2 linked regions of the Homo sapiens genome follow. The protein of the gene in region 1 purifies or fractionates together with the protein of each later gene. This does not show direct contact. Each region holds a gene or a part of one and is shown on either strand. Other genes may lie near its edges.

What was found. Proteins that work in one complex are often made in the same cells at the same time.
Region 2: the proteins of HBS1L (region 1) and LIPA purify together in Homo sapiens (affinity purification with mass spectrometry; one large-scale study listed by BioGRID and IntAct). This does not show direct contact.

Annotation. Positions count from the first base shown.
Region 1 is NC_000006.12:134,999,146-135,003,007, forward strand, and holds part of HBS1L (HBS1-like protein), read right to left. Parts: intron 3,698-3,862; coding exon 3,589-3,697; intron 1-3,588. UniProt on the Homo sapiens protein: GTPase component of the Pelota-HBS1L complex, a complex that recognizes stalled ribosomes and triggers the No-Go Decay (NGD) pathway.
Region 2 is NC_000010.11:89,220,518-89,224,379, reverse strand, and holds part of LIPA (lysosomal acid lipase/cholesteryl ester hydrolase isoform 1 precursor), read left to right. Parts: intron 1-549; coding exon 550-696; intron 697-1,797; coding exon 1,798-1,869; intron 1,870-3,862. UniProt on the Homo sapiens protein: Catalyzes the deacylation of cholesteryl ester core lipids of endocytosed low density lipoproteins to generate free fatty acids and cholesterol.

The sequences.
Region 1 (3,862 bases):
CAATCTCGGGCCCCAGATCTTTTTGTTTTTAGCTGCAAAACATTTTCTTCAGAGGCAAGCTTGCATTAAATTCAATATGGAAAACAGATCAAAGCAGACAGCTATGGTGGACAGAGTGGGCAGGGGCTTGAAGCTCAGCTCCCCCACCAATCCAGGCAGCCCTCAGAGGGGCTGCCAGAATAGGAAGGGCTTCACAAAACAGGGCTGACTTGATCATTTCATCTGCAATTCAATAACATGAAAGGTTTGTTTTCCTCTGGCTTTCAGGATAGCATTTTCATTTAAGTAAATCTTTTTCTTTTCTTTTTTTTTTTTTTTTTGAGATGGAGTCTCCCTCTATCACCCAGGCTGGAGTGCAATGGTGCGATCTCAGCTCACTGCAACCTCCGCCTCCCAGGTTCCAGCAATTCTCCTGCCTCAGCCTACTGAGTAGCTGGGATTACAGGCGCTGGCCACTACACCCGGATAATTTTTGTATTTTTAGTAGAGACAGGGTTTCACCACATTGGCCAGGCTGGTATTGAACTCCTGACCCCAAGTAATCCACCTGCCTCGGCCTCCCAAAGTGCTGATATTACAGGGGTGAGCTACTGTACCCGGCCCCTTTTAAGTAAATCTTAGGTAAACTGTAAATTAATTCACTAAAATTCTACAGTGTTAGTGGGAAATGACCAAAGTAATTAGAAAAGTATCCTAGGTAAGTCTGCCCTTAGTAAAAAAAACTTCTGCATATTATGAAATAAAAGTCAATGTTTTAAGATTTGAAAAATATCTAAGATAAGGTCTAAAAATGACCATTTGGATTTCAGGCCTATAATTAATTACTGACTGGTATGAATGAAAGAATAAGTTGGTTGGATTTTTTTCAGGTGCTTTCTGGTATCATTTTGTAAGCTTTTTTTCTTTCTTTCTTTCTTTCTGTTTTTTGAGATGGTCTCGCTCTCGCTGTGTTGCCCAGGCTGGAGCGCAGTGGTACAATATTGGCTCACTGCAGTCTTGGCCTCCCAGGTTCAAGTGATCCCACCTCAGCCTCTTAAGTAGCTGGGACCACAGGCAAGCACCACTATACCCAGCTAATTTTTTTTTTTTTTTGGTAGAGATGGGGGAATCTCAATATATTGCCCGAGCTGGTCTTGAACTCTTAGGCTCAAGTGATGCTCCCACCTCAGCCTCCTAAAGTGCTGGAATTACAGTCACGAGCCACAATGCCCACCCTGTACACTTACCTAATATTATAAAATGACTAGTCTTTTTTTTCTCTAAACTACCTTTCTAAAAGTAAACTATACATGAATCTAGAGGTTTAATCTTTCTTCTGGAGTTAAATACTTAGAAGCGAATAACTGAGATTTAAGAGGTTAAAAGAATATTTCTTCTATATGCAATGTTCCATTTCTACTTACATGCACTTACTTGCATCTACTATTTTTAATATTATTAAAGAAAAAGAAAGTTTGCTGTTTCATTTCCTTCCAAGCAATGCATTATGCACTATCCTTTTTTTTTTTCTTCCAAATAGAGACAGGATCTCACTCTGTTGACCAGGCTGGAATGCAATGGCAGGATCATAGCTCCCTCAAACTCCTAGGCTCAAGCAATCCTCCCACCTCAGCCTTCCAATGTGTTGGTATCACAAGCATGAGCCACTGCACCCAGCCGTATCCTTTTTAAAATAAGACACCACTGAGAATCACACTACGTAGAAACCTATGATGCTGAAATCTTGACTCAAAAGTGTTTCACTGTGTTTCTATATGCTTTCTTAAGACTAACCCAGAATAGGCTAAGTGCTATCCCTATTATAAATCTCAAAAAATCCTGTAATAGTACAACTTGGTTGGCCTTGAGCACTATTAAGCATTTCTGAGTATTTCGATCTATAACTACAGACCTTTCACATTCTAATGACTTCTCCCATAGAGCCACATCAAAATGTTGCCTCATGGGTGGATTTTTTACCTTTATGTTATTTGCAAGTTTATTTTTAAAATAATACATATTTCCCCAAGGATTCTGAGCAATAAATATTTAATAACTATTCTGTAAAAGGAATACAGTGATGAACATTAACAGTCCCTGGCCTCACAAAGAATATAGTCATAAAATTCTGAAAGGCCTGCATTGTACTTACAGAGTTTTCAAAAATTATGCACATTATTTATTGATACATTTATTACCCATTATCTTTATAATTATTCATTTAGATACCTATGCATTTACTTCTAATATAATACATTAATTTGGGTTCATTTGCATGTTAAGACTTCTGAAAAATCTTTTGTACTAAGATTATAAAATCCTTAGAACAATAAATTGTGTATTCTATTTATTTCCCCCCTCTCTCTCTCTCTGTATGTAAAAATCCCATAATAGAATTAAATGGTACTCAAGAATAAGGACAAAAAGGGCAATTATAATTCTGACAACTCAATCCCAATTCAGAAGGAAAAAAGGCATACACGAAGCTTTTTGAGACTGAATCAGAATTCTAAATTATTTTAACAGGCTAAAGTTACTCATGATAAAAATTAACTTTTTCATTCATCCAATCATTCAATTAATGTACACTGAATGCCTACTATGTCCTAGATAAGGAGTCCTTTCCTTCACTGACTTTGAAATCTAGTGAATAAAGTCTTGTTTCTATAAAATCCAAAAATTGAACTAGGTGATAAACATTCTTCCCAACCAAAACTCATAATACCTCACTAGTTTAGACAAAAGAATATTGTAAGGAAAAAAAAAATAAATAAGGTTCCTGGGTTTATATTTTTAAAAAAATATAACTTGGGAAAAGAGGAAAAAAAAGGAAAAAAAGTATATATATATAAAAATCTATTGTTTATAGTAAAAACCTATTGTTTATATTTGATAACAGCGTTTATCATTTTGGCAGACAAAATACATATAATTTATAAGTAACAATTGAAAATTCTGAAAAATTTTAGAGTTTAAAAATTAATGGCTTTAAAGCAACTCACTTCCCTTGTCTATAAAAACTCCTGGAAGGATTCTAGAGACTTTGATAAGAACAAACAAGTGCTACCAAGGTATGGTTTATTTCCATTTTTCACTACATATTTGAAATTCTACATATGTTTCATATCATATGTCTTTGCTACAATGGTCCAATTTACGTCTTTGCTACAATGGTCCAATTTATTCAATATGAAAATCCAAAAGAGTTTAAAAATATTTTAGTTATTAAAAAATTTAATTAATGATTCCATGATTCGGGGACTCACTCCAAAATCTGGTTACCTCTGCCACCTAGTGGTATAAGAATTCCCTATCTCACAGTGCTAGGTTTCACAAAATCATAGGGTTTTTTATGTTAAAGTAGCTATAAAATATTTATGTAAGAAAACTGGCAGTGAGGTAGAGTAAGTAATACACACAAGATAAGGCCAGAATCAAGCCTAATTTCTCATTTTGTCTCTTTGTACTATGTTATACTGAGGATATATGATACTTCAGTGCTAATGATATATTATGCGAAATTGAAACAGTCTCTTTCTTACAGAAGCAACAGTGATTTCAAAAACTTGGGGGTGGGGGTGGGGATGAGGGAGGTACTCAAAGTCTTACCCAGGCACTTCAAATCCCATAGTTTGCTTCTTTCCAGATACAGTCATTTTAGCAACTTTTGGCACAATTTCAGATTCACTTCGCGATGTCTGGGAATCTACTGGTTTTCCTAGTTAAGGAGTAAAATATAAAAGGCCAATTAATTTCTTTAGTAATATAAAGAAATCTATTACATAGTATTTTAAATTATAGATTATGATAACTTTCACAGAATTAATGTCTTTATAAACACATTATCTCTAAAAAAATTTAGTAAGATATTAATGCTGAAAGA
Region 2 (3,862 bases), on another chromosome or scaffold:
AGGCAGTCCTTCTGCCTTGGCCTCTCAAAGTGCTGGGATTACAGGCATGAGCTACCATGCCTGGCCAATAAAAAAAATTTTAAAAAACAAAATAAAAAAGCAAGCGATGGGCTGGATTTGGCCTGCTGGCCAGTAGCATTGAATTAGATGGGCACACCTCTGGCAGACATTACTGATCAATCACAGCCTTGACTGTTTCTTAGAAGTAACCACCGATCCATCAGAGTCAGATGAAAATTACTTGGGGATGGCCCTGGGAGGGGTGATCATTAAGGCCCTTTCCCACTGTAGAAGTCCGCTGAAAACTTATTTGATTTTCTGCCTCCTTCTCTTCATTTGGAGAATTTAAATACACCTCTGTAGTGTGTGATTTTTGCTTTGGTAAACTTGTGCAAAAGCATCCTGATTTGATGTCCACTGGTTGCCATTCTCTCCTGAGGCCATTCGTGGAGACATTGGGTACTTGTCTCTGCTTCTGAGGTGAGTCACGGAGACTTATGCACCAGAGTGAAATGCTGAGATGTTCTTGGGTTTCTTTTTATTTTGTAGGACTTATTTGGAGACAAAGAATTTCTTCCCCAGAGTGCGTTTTTGAAGTGGCTGGGTACCCACGTTTGCACTCATGTCATACTGAAGGAGCTCTGTGGAAATCTCTGTTTTCTTCTGTGTGGATTTAATGAGAGAAATTTAAATATGGTATGCATGTTTATAGTAAGATTTGATTTTTTTTTTTATCTGTGAATGTGCTTATTTGTGTTGAATGATATGGGAGAGGTGGGAATGACCTCATCAGAACTCTAAAGAGTCTTTCATTTGAGAGGCACAAGCATGAACTTTGGCCAATGCCTAGAATACGGTACCACCTGCTGCCATCCTCAGGCTGACTGTGGTCACCTTCTTATGTTGTACCTAGATGGAGATTATTGAATGAGGAGATCTGTCACAAATTAAGCTGTAATATTTATAATTACTCTAGTGATTTGTTTCTTTTAGAAATCATTATAAGTATAAACATAAAGATGGGAACAATAGACAGTGGGGACTCCAAAAGGAAGGAGGGAGAGGGACAAGGGCTGAAGCCTGTTGAGTACTATAGCCAATATTGAGTACTGTGGTTATGGGATCAATAGAAGCCCGCATCTCAGCATCATGCAATCCACCCTTGTAACAAACCTGCACATGGACCCCCCGAATCTAAAATACACAAATTTTCAAAAATTACTATAAGTATTTAAATTTGGAACGGCCATTTACATACACATAAGTGTATGCTTGCAGTGTGTGTGTATTTATAAAAGTACATTTTATAAAATGTAAACCCATTTTATTTTATAAAATATAAACCCTTGGCCAATACTATGCCCGTGTTTCTAAATATGTTTGTTAGTTTGTCATGTGGCATTTTGAAAAAAAGGGTTAAAATCCTGGAATAAAGGCCCTAAGGAATTTCAGTGCCATTTTTCTTTTGTCTGATAATTAAAGCAAGGTGTGATTGTTATATGAAATTTGGGAAATTCAGGAAAGCATGAAGAACAAAATGAAAATGCCCTGTAAACGAAACCCACACAGTCCCGTGCTTACCATGTTGTTGCACCTCCTTCATATGGACTTTGTATGTGGTTGTATGTATTTTTATAGGGCAGATTTTTAGTCAAATAATTTTTTTCTACCTCTCATCTCACATACTTGAGATTATGGCTCTAGTTTTTAGTGCTTTGAAGGGCAAAATACAATGTTTATTATCAATGCCACCTTAATGCTGTTTTCATTCTTCATTTCAATGTATTTATTTTGCAGTCTAGAGTGGATGTATATACAACACATTCTCCTGCTGGAACTTCTGTGCAAAACATGTTACACTGGAGCCAGGTAGGCATTCCAGGAGTGCATTTGGGGTTCATGTAAAATCAACATCAGAAAGGTCTGGGCATGCAAACCCTTTCCAAATAGAAAGACAACCTGCTTACAAATCTGATCTGGTTTTCTTCCCCAGAGTCCTGGGTTTTTGTCATCGTGCTTGTGTTGCTTTTGATACCTGTGGTGGGGCACACTGTGTTATACGTGGGTTCACAAACAGCTACTGGGGTTGACATTTTTCTTTTCCCTCCTCTCCCTTCCTCAAGTCTCAGGTTAATATATTCTCTCCCTTTCCTTCTCCCCCAGCTTTCTTTTCCTCCTCCTGTTTCCTCCCCTCCATCTGCTTCTCATTGAGTCCTAGATTTTTTTTATTTCTGTGTTGCTTCATAAAGAGTGATTTTAAGTCCGTTTTGGAGATAGAAACCGCTGTTTCAACACTAACCCCTGATCACAATATGCTTGGAATAGCAGTGAATAAACTGGAGCTAAACCAATGATAGATGTGAATGGGGGCCCCTGACTTTTGAAATACAGTTTTGATTATTTTATCATGTAAATAAGTCATGTTCATTCTAGAAAATTTAGAAACTACATCTAGAAAAAAATTATCTTAAAATGAAAATAAAATCATTCTATAACCCTAGACAGAGAGGAAATGCATATCCATAGATATTGAATGTCTCTGCATTCTATTCTATACCTCTTTTCAAAAAGATGCTGTTAAAGACATGGATAGAAATAGTAGATGTAGAAATAGATTGATTTTTCTCCTGCTTACTGTTTTACAGCTTGCTTTTCTTTTTTCACCTGACAATATGTCAGGGACTTCTTTCTACCTCAGGACATAATTTTGTGCCATTTATTTTTCAGCTAACTTCATTTTTAATATGAAACAACTCACCATTTAAGCCCTAAACCAAGACACTGTAGGTGTCTTGAATAGTAATTTCCAAACACCTGGCAGTCACTGCTTGCATCAGAATCACCAAATTGCTTTAAAAAGTACACTATTTAATAAATCATTGCATTAAAAAAGTAATGAGAGTTGGAATTATAGTGGAATTCTTGGATTGGCTACCATCCAGGCTTATAAAACAAATACTCCTGTGTCCCAATCATTTGGACTAGAGAATCTGTACTTTTATTTTTTCGTTTTATTTTATTTTTTTGAGATGGACTCTCACTCTGTTGCCAGGCTGGAGTGTAGTGGTGCGATCTTGGCTCACTGCAACCTCCGCCTCCCAGCTTCATGTGATTCTCCTGCCTCAGCCTCCCGAGTCGTTTTATTATTTTAAAAAAAAATTTTTTATTGAGGTATAAGTGACATAGAATATTTAAAGTATACAATTTGATATATTTCAGTGTTTGTATACACCTGTGAAACCATCACCATAATCGACACAGCAAATATATCATCATCCTAAAAGGTCCCTGCTGCCCCTTTGTGATACCTCCCCCCATCCCTCCCCTCAATCCCACTGATCTGCTTCCTGTCATTGTAGCTTAGTTTGCATTTTCTAGAGCTTGCATGAGAACAGTCATGCAGTTTATACTTGTTTTTGTCTGGCTTCTTCCACTCAGAATACTTGTTTTGAAATTTTCCTATGTTGTGTATGTCAGTAGTTCATTCCTTTTTATTTCTGAGGATCTGCATTTTTAAAAAATCTGCCTGGTAGATTCTTTTGCTCCACCAGGTTTGGGAGCAGACCTGTTCGGGACATCCTGATACTTTCATCTCCTTCTTCAGTTGCCCCAGGAACTCTAACAGTGCTATAGTTCTCCTTTCCCTGGGGCTCGTCTCTAAGGAACTAGGAAGAGCCTGGCCTGAGGCTCCTGGTCCTTTATAGTAACTAGAAGGCTGAGAGTTAAATGTCAGTTCCTCAGGGGCAGAGTTTGTTGTGGCCTAAAAGAGGGGCATCTGGAATGCAAATAGTTCATGACGTGCTGAACAGCACATGCTTACCACTTAAGGAATGCCCCCAAACCTTCAAAAATCCTCAAATTC